Linked DNA regions of Homo sapiens. The protein of the gene in region 1 binds, or shares a complex with, the protein of each later gene. Each region holds a gene or a part of one and is shown on either strand. Other genes may lie near its edges.

What was found.
Region 2: the proteins of NTF4 (region 1) and NTRK2 are in contact, whole or in part, in a crystal structure (PDB 1HCF), measured with the Homo sapiens proteins. Residues at the interface, in NP_001382418.1 of Homo sapiens: Gly81, Val82, Ser83, Glu84, Thr85, Ala86, Ser89, Arg90, Arg91, Gly92, Glu93, Leu94, Ala95, Asp98, Ala99, Ser101, Gly102, Trp103, Thr105, Tyr135, Phe137; in NP_001018074.1 of Homo sapiens: Phe291, Glu293, Thr296, Ser297, Asp298, His299, Cys302, Pro304, Thr306, His335, Val336, His343, Gly344, Cys345, Asn350, Thr352, His353, Met379, Gly380, Trp381, Pro382, Gly383.

The regions. Positions count from the first base shown.
Region 1 is NC_000019.10:49,063,002-49,066,902, reverse strand, and holds the start of NTF4 (neurotrophin-4 preproprotein), read left to right. Parts: upstream 1-2,084; 5' UTR 2,085-3,164; exon of another isoform or gene 3,165-3,287; intron 3,288-3,901. UniProt on the Homo sapiens protein: Target-derived survival factor for peripheral sensory sympathetic neurons. May promote ameloblast differentiation and subsequent reduction in proliferation of ameloblasts.
Region 2 is NC_000009.12:84,667,392-84,671,292, forward strand, and holds the start of NTRK2 (BDNF/NT-3 growth factors receptor isoform a precursor), read left to right. Parts: upstream 1-2,337; 5' UTR 2,338-2,497; exon of another isoform or gene 2,498-2,830; intron 2,831-2,957; exon of another isoform or gene 2,958-2,985; 5' UTR 2,986-3,357; coding exon 3,358-3,569; intron 3,570-3,901. UniProt on the Homo sapiens protein: Receptor tyrosine kinase involved in the development and the maturation of the central and the peripheral nervous systems through regulation of neuron survival, proliferation, migration, differentiation, and synapse formation and plasticity.

The DNA.
Region 1 (3,901 bases):
GACAGTGACCCCAAGAGAGAGGATGCAAGAGGCTCAGCAAGAAGGAGACTGGGACCCAGAGAGGGTGGACAGATATCCAGAGAGAAGAAAACTGGGACCTAGAAAGAGGGGGACAGAGACCCAGAGAGAAGGGGGGACAGAGACCTGGGGGGGAACAGAGACCCAGAGAGAGGGGGGACAGAGATCCAGAGACAGAGAGAGAGACAGAGACCCAGAGAGTGAAGGGGACAGAGACCCAGAGAGAGAGGGGGACAGAGACCCAGAGAGAGAGGGACAGAGACCCACAGACAGAAGGGGACAGAGACCCAGAGAGAGAGGGGGACAGAGACCCAGAGAGAGAGGGACAGAGACCCAGAGAGAGAGGGGGACAGAGACTCAGAGAGAGAAGGACAGACCCAGAGTTGGAGGGAGACAGAAATCCAGAGGGAGGGGAACAGAGACCTGGAGATAGGGGGACAGAGACTGTTTCCCAGTCACTCTGTTTGGAAACCTCATCCCTACTATCCCCTCCAGGACTAGAAGCTAGAAGCTAGAAGCTAGAGTCCTCCTGCTATGCGGCAGGATGTATTGGCTGTTTAGGAACAGGGGAAGGGTGGAGAAGCCGGAGAGGTGACCTGAATGCACACCCAAAGCCTGGGAAGTGGCCCTTCCCCCCACCCCCAATAAATAACTGGAGCGGCCTTGTGTGTTGCCTTGGCTGGGATGGTGAGGAGCAGGAAACACCCTAACCGGGGACACCCTCCTGCCACCTTGCCATGCTATATTTAGGCTGAGGGGGTGTGGGATGACCCTCGAGGCAGGTGTCAGTTTTCCTTCTGAAAATAGCGCAGGCGGAGGGGAGCGGAGTCTCAGGGTAGAGGTGTGGTGGGGTGAGGAGCCCCGCTGCCCTCATGACTGTCCTGAGACACTCCGGCTCCGGTCCCATCCCTGTCTTTCTCAGGGTCTCTCAGGGGCTCTGTCCCCTTCTCGGGGGGGTGGGGGGGTCTGCCCTCACGCTCTCTGGGCCTCTGTCTTCTCTCTGGGCTCCTGCCCTCCCCCACTCTCTCTAGTCTCGGTCCCCCTCTTTCTTTTGGTCTCTCCCCACTTTTCCATGTCTTCTCCCTATCTCTCCCTTCATGTCACCGCGCACCATTTCTCAAGGTAGCTGATTGTTCTTAAGACACATCTGTCTATCTCTGGTCCTATGATACCTTGCACGTCTCTTATCTGAGCTCAGGACAAGACCTTCTCCCCGGTCCCCAGCCAGGAAATTCCAGGGGAGAGGAGTATGCGGGAGCCCCCACATCCACTGTCTCCCCGGGCCTGGGGCCTTATCACTGCCCAAGCCCAGCTGGTTAATGTCTGGCGTGGAGCTCCTGGGAAGTGGGGAGGAGAGCAGAGGGTGGGAATCTGCCCCGGGATTGACACGCAATTGGCAAAAGACGGCAAAGGAATCTCAGGCCCAGACTCCTGGGGCTAATGGAGGAGGAGGCTGGGGGCTGGACTCCTGAGTCTGAGACGGGGCGGGGTTGGGAGGTGGTGGGGGGAACTGTGGGCTTAGTACTCAGGCGCCTGGGGCTGGGGGGAGAGGTGGCTGGGGTCGCAAGTCCTGGGTCTGAGGGAGGAGGGGCCGGATGCCTGGACTCCTGGGTCTGAAGGGAGGAGGGGCTGGGGGCCTGGACTGCTAGGTCCAAAGGAGGAGGCAGCTGGAAACTGGGACTCCTGTGACCAAGGCGGCCGCGTTGAACGAGCCAGGCCTGGCTTCCAAGGTCCCGGCACGCGAGTGCAAGGCAGGATCCCCCGGCCCCTCCTCTGCCGCCCGGCGCCGCCCCGCCCCCGCCCCCGACCCGGGCCCTGCGGAGCGTGAGCAGCTAGCACCCGGCGGGCCAGCGAGCGTCCCTGCAGCCAGCGAGCAGGAGGAGGAGCTGCTGCCGGGCGGAGGGCAGCCGCGGGAGCCGAAGAGGGCGCCCCAGGTAAGATCTCCACTCCTCCTCCCTCGGGATTCCGGCGTCCTGGTCGCCCTGCCCTCGGGTGGGGAGGGACGGGGGCGGGGCCGACCGGGGCGGGGCTTGGCGGAGGAAACTGAGGCAAGAGGGAAGTGTCCCAGATATGCAGCCGGTTTCCCCTGAGGGGTCTCGGAGTCCGGAACCCCCAACCCAAATCTGGAGGATGAGGAACCCGGAGTCTGCATTTCTTAGTATCCGAGAAGGAGGGGCCTGAATTCCAGAACTCCTGGGTCTGAGAGAGGAGGGCACTGGGGGCCTGGATTCCTGGGTCTGAGGGAGAAGGGCGCTGGGGGCATGGACTCCTGGGTCTGAAGGAGGAGGGCGCTGGGGACCTGGACTCCAGGGTCTGAGGGAGAAGGGTGCTGGGGGCCTGGGCCTGGACTCCTCCTGGGTCTGAGGGAGAAGGGTGCTGGGGGCCTGGACTTCTGGGTCTGAGAGAGGAGGGCGCTGGGGGCCTGGACTACTCCTGGGTCTGAGGGAGGAGGGCGCTGGGGATCTGAACTCCTGGGTCTGAAGGTGGAGGCCCTGGGGTCTGCACTACTCGGTCTGAGGGAGAAGGCGGTCCTGGTTGGGTCAGCCTGGGCTCCTTTCACTCTCCACCCTTCCCCTTTCCTGTACCGAGGAGCCAGGGCAGGCAGCCACTCCAGGTATGTGCAGAAGTCTTGGGCGGGCCCTGGCCTGTCCTGTGAGGAGGGAACATTCCAGGAAGCAGCTTGGGGAACCAGGGCTTCTTGAGTGTGGGCCCTCAGGGACCCGGGTGTCCAGGCCAGTTCCGCCCCATCTGGGAGATGAATGGGCCGAGGGGGATGTAATCTCTTCCAGCCTCCTTCATCCACTGCCTCTCCCTTCCCCTATTCTCCCTTCCCCTCCCTCCATCTGCTTCCCATCCCAGCCAGGAGCCATCACCTGGGTAGAAAAGGGGCCTCTGGAAAGGGGGCGGGGCCTTGACTCTTGGGTACCCTGCACTTGAAGAGGAACTCTGGGAAGGGGTTGTTCAGGGATTTGGCCCCTTCCCCACCTGCCTCTATAACCTGTCTATTCTTTTCTTCCCCTAGGTGGTTGCCCCCTCCCTCTCCTGAGATGTCAGGAAGGAGGGGGCCACCTGTGTCCTCCACAGGGGCCCCCCGAAGCCTGGGGACTCCCAGCCCCAGAGCTCCGAGGCGGAGGAGGTGCTGACAGGTCTGGTAACTACTGACTGTTTCCCAGTCTTCTCCACGCCACCCTTTCCCAGAACCACAGGCTTCCAGAATGTTGTAGGGAAACTGCAAAATCCGCGCCTCCACCAGCCTCTCCCAGCGCCAGGTCAATTTCACACACAGGGAAACTGAAGCCTGCCTCAGAGGGGCAGCGTTTTACCTCCTTAGTGGCAGTTTTGAGGTGAACTGGGGTCTCCCTAGGATTCCAGGTTGTGACCTTTCTCTAAATTGTGGAATGTGGCCAGGCGTGGTGGCTTGAGTCTGTAGTCCCAGCTACTCAGGAGGCTGAGGCAGGAGAATGCCATGAACTTGGGAGGCGGAGCTTGCAGTGAGCCAAGATCGTGCCACTGCACTCCAGCCTGGGCGACAGAGGGAGATTCCATCTCAAAAAAAAAAAAAAAAAAATTTTGTTTGGGACCAGGCATGGTGGCTTATGCTTGTAATCCCAGCACTTTGGGAGGCCAGGACACGACTATTGCTTGAGGTTGGGAGTTCAAGACCAGTCTGGCCAACATGGTGAAACCCCATCTCTATTAAAAATACAAAAATTAGCTGGGCACAGTGGCAGGTGCTTGTAATCCCACCTACTCAGAAGGCTGAGGCAGGAGAATCACTTGAACCCAGGAGGCAGACATTGCAGTGAGCCAGGATTGTGCCACTGTACTCCAGCCTGGCCAACAGAGTGAGATTCTGTCTCAAAAAAAAAAAATTGTTTGGAAC
Region 2 (3,901 bases), on another chromosome or scaffold:
CTTCTGGGAGAAATTTTAAAAATATATATAATAAGTAAATTATCTGTCCAAAGGACAAACTGCTATGGTTGAAATAGTAGAGCAGAAGTAGGGTGATTAGAAGTAGGACCGCAAATCCTAATTTTAAGTGGGAGATAGTGGAATATATTTAGAATCCAACTATAATAGTAGCATATATTTACTCTAATAGAAACTCTACAAATATTCCAACATAATTAGACTCTTCTGGTGTACAAACCACCGTAAGACTGCCTATTCTCCATACCGCATTGACATGCTGCAGCCACTAGGGCGAAAATGGGCCGTTTCTTAGAAAAATGGGCTCAGAGTATGGGAGTGTGAGAGAAATGTGGGTGATTACGCACACACTCCTTCCTTCCCCAAGTGTTCCTCAGGGGCTTCTCCGCTTAAGGTTCACTGACAAGACAGGCGGAGTTTTACGTGCGTCTGAGACCAGGTCATTTTTGCCCTTGGCGTCTCTTCCTTGGCGCGTCCTCACCTAGTAGAGAATAGAGGCGCAGCTCAGGAGTAAACTTCAGCCTGGCCGTTCACCACTCGATGTGTGTTACAGCCGAGTGACAGTGGTGAGATAGACCTGCTGGCCTTGCTTTCGGGACCTGCAGCAAGATTTTTGGGTGCTGTCCAAGAATTCCCGCGGTTACACTCAGCGCCCAGGATCTGTACAAAAAAGCCCCAATAGATGTTTTACGTTCCCTTCGTAATATTTAACGCTTGGCCTAGATCCGAGCATTCACTCTAACGTTCGGTTTCTTGATCCTTCCCATCCCCAAACTCTGCGGGTAGATCAGTGACTATTACTATATTTTGAACGAGACTCCAACCCATTGCTCTCTCGAGAGAGAAGGATTGCCCGCCTTTTTCCCCCGGGCAGGAGCTCGGCGAGGCCAGGAGAGCCGCGCACCGGCCGGGCAGGGACGCGCAGGCGTCGGGCGCCGCTGGTTGCGCATCTGGCGCCAGAGCGCGCCCCCAGCGCTGTGCCCGCCGCGACCCGGGCCATGGGCTGGTGCTCCGGAGCGTGCCGGGCGCTCTCTCCCCGCGCGGGGGCACCAGAGCCCTCGGAAGTGTCAGGCACTGCGGTGTATTTTCCCCGTTCTCTTTTAAATGACTGCGGAAAAACAGATTCCGAGCCGCAAAAGGGAAGACGGATTCTCAGACAAGGCTTGCAAATGCCCCGCAGCCATCATTTAACTGCACCCGCAGAATAGTTACGGTTTGTCACCCGACCCTCCCGGATCGCCTAATTTGTCCCTAGTGAGACCCCGAGGCTCTGCCCGCGCCTGGCTTCTTCGTAGCTGGATGCATATCGTGCTCCGGGCAGCGCGGGCGCAGGGCACGCGTTCGCGCACACCCTAGCACACATGAACACGCGCAAGGTACGGCAGGGGAGCAAGGGCTTGGGATGCCCTACGTGGGGGTGGGCATCGCGGGGAGTGAATCCACGATCTGGGAATGGCTACATCCCGTCAGGTTAAAGGATGAGAGAAAATGACGCGGCGCCACACATCGGACAGGCCAGGGTGGCCACCGAGCATTTAGAATACGCATCAGGCGCGCTCCCTTCCCCTCACATGTCTCTATTTCCCGGGCGTGTGATGGCAGAAAACGGCAGGAAAAAGACCCACTTAGAGAGCTAGAATTGTGTTTGGAGACTCCCTTCCCTCTGCAAAAGCACCAACAGGAAGCCCCTCCAAAACCACCGATCCCCAAATAGGTGGCCCGGAATGGGGGCGGTGATCCTTGGTTACCAATGCAGAACACGTTTTGGTGTTTACAACATTTATTTATTTTTAGGATAGCTTGCCCTCCCTTTTAGGCAGGGTGGGAAAGGAGAACGCGGGGAGGGAGAAGGGAGGGAGGATTCCTATAATAAGAATCAGCGCATTTTTCAGAGCTGAACCAAGCACGGTTTCCATTTCAAAAAGGGAGACAGCCTCTACCGCGATTGTAGAAGAGACTGTGGTGTGAATTAGGGACCGGGAGGCGTCGAACGGAGGAACGGTTCATCTTAGAGGTACCTGGATGTAAATGCACACACACACACAGACACACACACGCACGCGCGTGCATGTCTACACGGCCAGGATGTGTGCGTGTGTGCGCGCGTGTGTGAACTCCCACATGCTGCTGCTGTCTGCTTCTGGCCAGTGGCACCGATGCCTCCCTCCTCCCTGCTCGCCCCCAGATTCCCCTCCCCTCCCTGGTGCTTTTGTCTGGAGGGTGTTATGGGTTTGTGTGTGTATGAGCGTGTGTGTGTTTTTGGATTTCAGACTAATTTTCTGGAGTTTCTGCCCCTGCTCTGCGTCAGCCCTCACGTCACTTCGCCAGCAGTAGCAGAGGCGGCGGCGGCGGCTCCCGGAATTGGGTTGGAGCAGGAGCCTCGCTGGCTGCTTCGCTCGCGCTCTACGCGCTCAGTCCCCGGCGGTAGCAGGAGCCTGGACCCAGGCGCCGCCGGCGGGCGTGAGGCGCCGGAGCCCGGGTGAGCAGCGCAGATAGTGCCCTCGGTCGCCTCGGCCCTCACTGTCTCCCCCTGGGGCGGCCTCGGCTACTCCCCAGGTGGGACGTGCCGCGCCACCTGCCCGCGCCACCGGCACCCAGCGGCCGTGGCGGATTCTGCAGCATCATTCGGGGGCCCCGTCGCGGAGCCAAAGCCGCCGGCAGTCTCCGCATTCCCCTTTAAAGGGTCCTTCGCCCGGCCTGTACCATGGAATCCTGTCTTGGGGACCCTTTCCCTACCTCCCCTCCCTTGGCCTCAGGCTCGAAGAGAGAGTGGGCACACTGGTGGCTCCAGCGGCGTCAGTGCCATCGCGGGGCAAGTTGATTCCTGGGCCGGAGCTGGGCACTCATCCATCCACAGTCTCCGGGCTGGGGTCGGGGTGGGGATGACGCGAGCAGAGAGGGAGAGTGCCCCAATTAGTGGTGTTGGGGGTCCTACGCTCAGTCTTACGCGTGTCTGTTTGTCCTCAGCCTCGAGGTGCATACCGGACCCCCATTCGCATCTAACAAGGAATCTGCGCCCCAGAGAGTCCCGGGAGCGCCGCCGGTCGGTGCCCGGCGCGCCGGGCCATGCAGCGACGGCCGCCGCGGAGCTCCGAGCAGCGGTAGCGCCCCCCTGTAAAGCGGTTCGCTATGCCGGGGCCACTGTGAACCCTGCCGCCTGCCGGAACACTCTTCGCTCCGGACCAGCTCAGCCTCTGATAAGCTGGACTCGGCACGCCCGCAACAAGCACCGAGGAGTTAAGAGAGCCGCAAGCGCAGGGAAGGCCTCCCCGCACGGGTGGGGGAAAGCGGCCGGTGCAGCGCGGGGACAGGCACTCGGGCTGGCACTGGCTGCTAGGGATGTCGTCCTGGATAAGGTGGCATGGACCCGCCATGGCGCGGCTCTGGGGCTTCTGCTGGCTGGTTGTGGGCTTCTGGAGGGCCGCTTTCGCCTGTCCCACGTCCTGCAAATGCAGTGCCTCTCGGATCTGGTGCAGCGACCCTTCTCCTGGCATCGTGGCATTTCCGAGATTGGAGCCTAACAGTGTAGATCCTGAGAACATCACCGAAATGTGAGTTCCTGGAGCTTTTCCTCCTTTTTCTCCTTGCCCCTAGGGCCCGAGCTGGCCAGGTGGGTAGGTCCTGGAAGTGAATGCTGTCCCAAGAGTGGGGAGAAGTCAAAGACAAGGGATGCAGGACAGGGTCATCTGTCAGTTACCTGCTGTTTCACTGGCTTGGGACTGCTAGTGCAGGGAGAAGTGTGACACTTTAGAATAAGTTTCAAATATAGATATACATATGCCGATTATATATTTATTCCTCGTGGGAAGGAACTCACTATGCTTTTTATATTTCAAAGCTCTGCTGGGTGTGCTTTAGGCTTTCAGTATGCACTAACTTAGTT